Linked DNA regions of Homo sapiens. The protein of the gene in region 1 purifies or fractionates together with the protein of each later gene. This does not show direct contact. Each region holds a gene or a part of one and is shown in the gene's direction. Other genes may lie near its edges. The genes, in order: MGST2 and CST8.

Evidence for each region.
Region 2: the proteins of MGST2 (region 1) and CST8 purify together in Homo sapiens (affinity purification with mass spectrometry; one large-scale study listed by BioGRID and IntAct). This does not show direct contact.

What each region holds. Positions count from the first base shown.
Region 1 is NC_000004.12:139,664,592-139,668,920, forward strand, and holds the start of MGST2 (microsomal glutathione S-transferase 2), read left to right. Parts: upstream 1-1,227; 5' UTR 1,228-1,428; coding exon 1,429-1,486; intron 1,487-4,329. UniProt on the Homo sapiens protein: Catalyzes several different glutathione-dependent reactions. Catalyzes the glutathione-dependent reduction of lipid hydroperoxides, such as 5-HPETE.
Region 2 is NC_000020.11:23,489,657-23,494,082, forward strand, and holds the start of CST8 (cystatin-8 precursor), read left to right. Parts: upstream 1-1,460; 5' UTR 1,461-1,686; exon of another isoform or gene 1,687-1,753; intron 1,754-1,868; 5' UTR 1,869-2,011; coding exon 2,012-2,242; intron 2,243-3,301; coding exon 3,302-3,415; intron 3,416-4,426. UniProt on the Homo sapiens protein: Performs a specialized role during sperm development and maturation.

The sequences.
Region 1 (4,329 bases):
AATAAATTGCTATTGTAAGCCACCCAGTCTATGGTATCTTTGTTATAGCAGCTTGAGCCAAGATATACCCTCTAATGGTGCTGTAGGATGGGGTGAGGAAAGGCCCCCAGCTCTGGTTTTTGGGAAGCTGCATCTTTATTTTTATTATTTGTTTGAGACAGGGTCTCACTTTGTCACCCAGGCTGAAGTGCAGTGGAACGACCTTGGCTCACTGCAGTCTCAGGCTCCTGGGTTCAAGCAATCCCCTTGCCTCAGCCCCCTAAGTAGCTGGGACTACAGGCACGTGCCACCATGCCCTGCTAATTTTTGTATTTCTTTAAGAGATGGGGTTTTGCCATGTTACCCAGGCTGGTCTCGAACTCCTGAGCTCAAACCATCTGCCCATTTCAGCCTCCCAAACTGTTGGGATTACAGGCATGAGCCATCCTTCCAGGCCAGAATCTGCATCTCTAAAGAGCAGATTCTCCTGCCTCAGCCTCCTGCGTAGCTGGGACTACAGGTTCGTGCCACCATGCCCAGCTGATTTTTTGTATTTTTAGTAGAGAAGGGGTTTTACTGTGTTAGCCAGGATAGTCTTGATCTCCTGACCTCGTGATTCACCCTCCTTGGCCTCTTAAAGTGCTGGGATTACAAGTGTGAGCCATCGCGCCCGGCCGGTTTATTTTTTTAAAAATGGCTGGGCACAGTGACTTGTGGCTGTAGTTCTAGCTACTTGGGAGGCTGAGGCAGGAGGATTACTTAAGCCCAAGAGTTGGAGGCTGCAGTGAGCTATGATCGTGCCACCACACACTCCAGCCTGGGTGACAGATCAAGACCCTGTCTTAAAAAAAAAAAGTATGATTATTATCAGAGTCTCTAGGTGACAGTGAGAGGCAGCCTGGTGCAGGGGATAGGGCACAGTTGTAATCTGCTAGACTGGGTTCAAATCCTAAATCGGCCATTCAGAGCGTGAATACATTAGAACTGGCTTAAATTAGCATTTAAAATGTCAACAGGATTAAGTAAGTAGTTCCTTCTCACTTTTTCCACAGGAGGTGAGAAAGGTCTCAGCAAGGCCCTAGGAGGGAAGGGCGTGGGGATGAAAGGGATCCAGAGAGTCTGTGCATTGGCAGAGAAGATAGTGTAACTGGCACTGCGGCTGGAGGGCTGGTCCCACAGTGAGCTACAGCCCTGCCCGCTGGCCGTGGGAGAGGCTTAAAACAAACGCCGGAAGCAACTCCCAGCCCCATAAAGATCTGTGACCGGCAGCCCCAGACCTGCCTGCCTTCCTGACTTCTGTTCCAGAGCAAAGGTCATTCAGCCGCTTGAATCAGCCTTTTCCCCCCACCCGGTCCCCAACTTTGTTTACCCGATAAGGAAGGTCAGCATTCAAAGTCAAGAAGCGCCATTTATCTTCCCGTGCGCTCTACAAATAGTTCCGTGAGAAAGATGGCCGGGAACTCGATCCTGCTGGCTGCTGTCTCTATTCTCTCGGCCTGTCAGCAAAGTAAGAGGCATGGGAAGTTCGTGTGTGTGCGCGTGTGTGCGTGTGTGTGTGTGTGTGACAAGGCTTGCGGGAGAGAGAGGGAGGGAGGGAGATGGGTCCGGTGTTTTGTTTCCTACTTGCCCTTGCAGGTAGCTCTGGGTCCTCAGAGCACAGTCGCCTCAGGGTCACCCATGCCGCCTGCTACCCTCCTTCCCAGGGGCAAGCAGAGACTGAGAACATTCCAGAGATTAGTTCTCCCAACTGGAACGCTGTGGGGCCTCAGAGCTCAGCGATTCTGCATCATCTGTGATTACGACCCACAGCCCGTTCAAACGAGCGTTAGTAGCCTGCTAACCTGCAGGAAGTGGTGTGAATATTAATTACAAGTGTTCCAAAGGAAACGTGCCTGCTTCTAAACCTGGTTGTGATTTCTTGAACGTTGATGTTTTAATTAATGTGTTTTCTTAAATAAACTGCCTATGGTGGTATGATTATCAGATTGAAAAAAACTTCCTTCAGAAATATTAGCTTTAGATTAAGTAATTAGCTCTAAATTTTAAAACAGCTTCCCACTAGGATTATTCAATATCTCGACTGCCTGGTTAAATAGAGGGCTTTTACTCCATGGGAGTCACATTTGCTCAATTCATATTATCTTACCTACAATGTCAGCTGGGGAAAGGGGTCCGAGTGCAAGAGTGCAAGACTTCTTACCAAGCATGCATATTTCTTTATATTTCCAAGTATGCCTGTACCAGGAAATAGGGCCAAGCCGTAGACTGCTCAGGTTACACAAACAGCCAGAAGCAGGAAGGCCTCACAGCTGAGGATCCAGTCCAGGCCTCCGTGCATGCTCAATGTCTTGCCTAGCCAGTCTGTTTTGAGATTGTATGAAGATCTTGAACCTTCAGACTCACGTTTTGTGGTTTGATTCACACAATCTGTTGTGGAGAAGAGCAGGATATTTGTTTCTAATTAAAGAAGCACTTAGATCTGTTAAAAGGAAAACCCTAGACAAATTACATTTAACTGAGTTTAATTGAGCAAAGAACGATTCACAGTTGGGCATGGGGAACCGGAATAGGTTCAGAGAGACTCTGGGGCTGCCACGTGGTAGAAGAAGATTTATGGACAGAAAAAGGAAAGCGACTCCCAGAAAACGGAAGCATATAGTTCACGATGTACGGAGAAACCTTTAGGCTGAACTTAAAATATGTCAGAAGGCAGCTTTAGGCTAAACCTAATTTAGCAGGTCTAAGGCTCACTGTTGGTAGCATCCTGACTCACAGGTGCTACCAAACCTGCATGCGCCTTTATCCTAGGCCTGCAGGTCCACAGATGTCCCAAAGCTGACAGAGGTGCTCATCCTCCCTGTTTGCTGCTTGTGCAGGGGGCTGTGTGAACTGGGGCCAGAATGTTAGGGGGCTGGATGGAGTGGGGGTAGGGGTGGGGAGAGAGGAGAGGAGACTGGGTGAATGATGATTAATGGTGGACAGGGAATGTTTAATGACAAGGTGTTAGGGCCGGGCACGGTGGCTCACCCCTGTAATCCGAGTACTTTGGGAGGCCAAGGCAGGTGGATCACGAGGTCAAGAGATCGAGACCATCCTGGCCAACATGGTGAAACTCCGTCTCTACTTAAAATACACAAATTTGCTGGACATGGTGGCACGCTCCTGTAGTCCCAGCTACTAGGGAGGCTGAGGCAGGAGAATCGCTTGAACCTGGGAGGGGGAGGTTGCAGTGGACTGAGATCACAGCACTACACTCCAGCCTGGCAACAGAGCGAGACTCCATCTCAAAGAAAAAAAAAAGATGTTGATGAAGAGTTGAACTTTGTAAAATAATTGAAAAGCTGTATTCTGAGCCAAACATGAGGGACGAGTGGCCGGTGACACAGCCCAAGGAGATTCTAAGAACATCTGCCCAAAGGGGTCTGGCTACAGATTGGTTTTATACATTTTAGGGAGACATAAGACATCAACCAATTCATGTAAGATGTACATTAGTTTGGTCCCAAAAGGCGGGACAACTGGAAGTGGGGCATGGGCTTCCAGGTCATAGGTGGATTTAAAGATTTTCTGATTGGCAATTGATTAAAAGAGTTTATCTACAGACCTCAAATCCATAGAAGGGAGTGCCTGGGTTAAGATAAGGGGTTGTGGAGGCCAAGGTTCTTACTATGCAAATGAAGCTTCCAGGTAGCAGCGTTTGGAGAGAATAGATTGTAAATGTTTCTTATGAGACTTGAAAAGGTGCCAGACTCTGTTAATTCTCTCCTGGATCAGAGAAAAGACCTGGCAAGGGAAAGGGATTTTCTACAGAATGTAGACTTTCCCCACAAGAGACAACTTTGCAGGACCATTTCAAAATATGACAAAGAAATATATTTTAGGGTAAAATACTTCAATTTCTTTCAAGGCCTGCTATCTGTCATGTGATGCTATACTGGAGTCAGGCTGGAATTTGGTGTCTTATTTCTACAAAAAGTCTTAAGTGTTAGATTTTTTAAAGGGAAGGTGGGGTTCAAGAAAGACACAGAGAGAGAGAGAGAGAGAGGAGGGGGAGGGGGTAGAGGGGGAGAGGGAGAGAGAGAGAGGCTTTACAACAACACAGGTTTATTACAAAAACCTGTGGAGGTGGGGGACCAGCTTAATGCCAGAGCCCGCCATTGCTTACAGGCTGGGGTATGTACAGGTATGGGCAGGAGGGTTTTGGGCAGTATGGCTTGCTGCCCTGGAGGATATTGATAAGATGTTCTTATGTTCAGGTGGTTTGGCCAGGGATATTCCTTGGGCTCTGTCAGGATTTGATAGGGATATTTCTTCAGTTGGGTCTTTGCTTGGCAGGGTATGATAAAGATG
Region 2 (4,426 bases), on another chromosome or scaffold:
CCCATTGATCTTTGCAGCCTAGGAAGAATGCTCACCTCTCTGCCTCACCAGGAACTTTCTGGACACTGATTTGGGATTTTCACAGAAAAGCAGAAGCTTTGAGAGCTTAACAGGTGCGTGCCCCCCTCCTCCCACTAAGGGCCAGGCCTGGGCATCAGAGTGGGCCACGTGACCCTTACCCTGGCAGGACAGGGCAGGGGGTTACTGTTGGCCCAAGCCAAGGGAGTTCAGAGGCCAGGCATTCAGGAAGCCAGAGTCATTGGCACAGGTGGGCAGAAGATGCCAGAGGGGCCCTGTATTAGTCAGGGTTCTTTTAAAGGGACAGAACTAATAGGATATATATGGTTGTGTATATATATAAAGTTAATACTTAATAAACTCCCCTTTATATATATATAAAATATATATATAAATTATATATATATTAATTATATATATAATATATATATAAATTATATATATATTAATTATATATATAATATATATATAAATTATATATATATTAATTATATATAATATATATATAAATTATATATATATTAATTATATATAATATATATATAAATTATATATATATTAATTATATATATAATATATATATAAATTATATATATATTAATTATATATATATAAAATATATATAATTTATATATATAAAATATATATAATTTATATATATAAATTATATATAAAATATATATAATTTATATATATAAATTATATATAAAATATATATAATTTATATATAAAAATTATATATAAATTATATATATAAAATATATATATAAATTGTATATATATAAAATATACATATAAATTATATATATATAAAATATACATAAATTATATATATAAATAATATGTATATAAAAGGGAGTTTATTAAGTATTAACTTACATGATCACAAGGGCCCACAACAGGCTGTCTGCCAAACTGAGGAGCAAGGGGAGCCAGTCTGAGAGTCCCAAAACTGAAGAACTTGGAGTCTGATGTTCGAGGGCAGGAGGCATCTAGCATGGGAGACAGATGTAGACTAGGAGGCTAGGACCATCTCTCCTTTTCACGTTTTTCTGCCTGCTTTATATTCGCTGGCAGCTGATTAGATTGTGCCCACCAGATTAAAGGTGGATCTGCCTTCCCCAGCCCACTGACTCAAATGTTAATCTCTTTTGGAAACACCCTCACAGACACACCCAGGATCAATACTTGGTGTCCTTCGATCAAATCAAGTTGACACTCAGTATTAACCATTGCAGGCCCCTGACTCTGAGGGCACAGCAGGAGGCATTTGCTTGCTCTCTGTGCCCCTGTGAGAGCTGTTTAGACCAAAGGCCGGAGGCTGGCAAGTGGGAGATGTCCTCACTGGGACAAGACACAGGTGCTGAATTACATCACAAAGCGTAACCTCCCTGCAGGGCGTGGACTCAGAGGGGCAAGAGAGACCGCAGACCAGGACCCACAGAGACCCTTGACTGGGCCACAGGCATGAACTAAGAGTGCTGAAGACCTAGGAGAACCACTGGTCAGGTCAGCTCCCAGCTCCACAGGGAGTAAGAAGGAGCTGCAGGCACAGCAGGCTGAAAGTCCACCAAGGGCTGAGGCCACAAGGCCTCTGGGGCAGCCACAGTTTTCATGATCACATCATACAGGACTGAGAAGCAGATAACAAGAGTGACGCTCACAGGGGTAGGCATAGACACACTGGGGCCGAAGGGGAGAGGAACTCTCCCTAGACACACAGATTGCTCTCAGGGTAAGGAGGGGAGGCTGGTAGAGAGACTCCTTAACTGGCATTCCTGGGTGGGTTTCCATGGAGAAAGAGAGGACAAACCCCAAAGAGTGACCCTAATGGCCTGTCTTGAATCCAGCTGGGCTGACGCTAACAGGAGGCAGTGTGTGGCTCGAAGATTCTTGAACCCACAGCAGCAGCTGCGGCCACCCCATCCTGCCCACAGCTCCAGCCCTGAGACGACGAGGAGGAGAGTCGACTTTGCCTCTTGCCCAAGGGACCATGCCCAGGTGCCGGTGGCTCTCCCTGATCCTCCTCACCATTCCCCTGGCCCTGGTGGCCAGGAAAGACCCAAAAAAGAATGAGACAGGGGTGCTGAGGAAATTAAAACCCGTCAATGCCTCAAATGCCAACGTGAAGCAGTGTCTGTGGTTTGCCATGCAAGAATACAACAAAGAGAGCGAGGACAAGTATGTCTTCCTGGTGGTCAAGACACTGCAAGCCCAGCTTCAGGTAAAGGTGTCTTTCCATATAGGTGGACATTTGCATATGGTGGCACAGTTGAAGCCAGACTGAAAGAGTGGGCATATAAGAAAAATATCACTATGCAAAAATCCTAAATATGTGAATGCTTAAGAGCCTAGACACTTCCACAGCATCAATAAGGCAGTGAACACACAGAGCACTTTCTACAAACGCTTGCGCTTTTGTTCTAAGTCCTTCGCATAGATTAACTCATTTAAACCCCAAACTGCAAATCAAATGTTCATGTATTTGCTAAGGTTGGGAGACAGATAGAATGCTAGCCATGAGAAAAGATCTGATAAAGGTGAGTCCAGGTGAACCTGGACCCAACTAGCAGACACTCCTTCATCTCCTGCTGTAATCCTTTAATGCCAGATGAAAACAGATTTAAATGGACATCACAAGTAGCCTTGATTGCATTCAGTCACTAATGAGTTCAACAAATACTAATGTCCTGCTATAAACCTACTGCTGTTCTACTCACTAAAGACTCAGCAGAGAACAAGACAGGCAAACTCATGCCTGCATGGGTCCTCATGGACTGTGTGCTGAGCTGGTGGGAGGGGCTTTGGGTGGGGAAACCCCAGAGGATGGGAGGTTTCACAGGAATCTGAGGGACTGGGGCCTAATGTGGCTGAGGGGGCTGTCCCCTGGTCAGGCCTGTGTGAACCTGAGCATCTCAGGCCCAGGAGAGCTGATGGTTCTGAAGAGCCCACCTTTCACCTCTCAGTCCTCACTGAGCATGCAGCATGCCCTGGGCTTGGGGACAGGAAATGGAATGAGAAGGCCTTGCTTTCAAGGAGGTGACAAACTGGAGAGGAGTCTTTACTCAAGTGTCCAGCTCCAGGAGCCTATGGAGTCCTGACTGATCTTGTTGTACACAGGGCTCCAGGCAGTGGGCATCTTAGCCTTCCGCTAAAGCTCTGTCTGGGGGTGAGGGAGGAAGGAAAGAGGAAAGGACGAGAGTAAGAGTAATTTTTTTTTTTTGTCAAAACTTTAAAAAAGTACAACTCTTTTGAATAAAATTGCATAATTGCTAACCAACAGGTCACAAATCTTCTGGAATACCTTATTGATGTAGAAATTGCCCGCAGCGATTGCAGAAAGCCTTTAAGCACTAATGAAATCTGCGCCATTCAAGAAAACTCCAAGCTGAAAAGGGTAGGTGATGAACCACTCATCTGTGACGGCCTAGGCAGCTCTGAACCCAAGAGAGAAAGCTGAGGCACGCAGACCTTCTCTTTGAGGTCTGGGTGGCTCCCAGTGTTTAGCCCCAGATAGCCAACCCTGTGGCCTTTATAGCAGAAGATCCAGGGCCACGGAACGTGGTGGAACCCTCTGAGCTTCTTTCTCATCCTTCATCCTGCAGAAAGGATGTTGTCAAGACCACTCTTATCTCAAGGGCTCCATTGACTTCTGGCCTTTTGATGCAGGCACACTGGACAACACATAATCACCAAAAGCCTGTCCTCTTGGGTCCAGACAAGCCACCCACTATTGCTGGGCCCATGGTCACTCATCCCCATACAGACACAAAAGGAACTTCATTCATTCACTCATCCACTCATAGAAAATTACTGAGCACCAGGTGCTACGTGCTTTGCACCAGGTCTATTCTGGGTGCTGGAGATTAAGCAATGACTAAGCCAGAGGGTGGCCCCACCCTCCTGGGTTTACAGTTGATTTTTGCTGGGGTCAGTCCAGGTTTCCAGGAAGGTTGGGGCAAACCCACAGACTCCCAACAAAAGGAGGACTTGGCCCAGGGGCTTTTGGCTTCAAGCCTGTATTTTTTATCTCAGAGCAGCTCATAGGCCAGTACTTGGTCCCAGACAGATGAAGGCCTGAGCATTCTGCAGGTTTGCCCAACAGGTGCATCACTGTCCCTGTCTTTACATTGGTGGTTCTCCAATGTGAGCAGGCATCACAATCACTTGGAGGTATTGACAAACCCTGATGACCGGGTTCCACCGGCAGAGTTTCCAATTCAGGAAATGGGATCTAAGAATTTGCATTCTTAATGAGTTCCTGAGTGGTGCTACTGCTGCTGCTGCTGCTGGCCTTAGGATCATTTTGAGAACCACTGCTTTATGCACTGCCATGGCACAGGAAATTGCAGGTACATTTATGAACTGCCCTGCCATTATGTTTGATGAAAACTGCCTCTGTATGCTC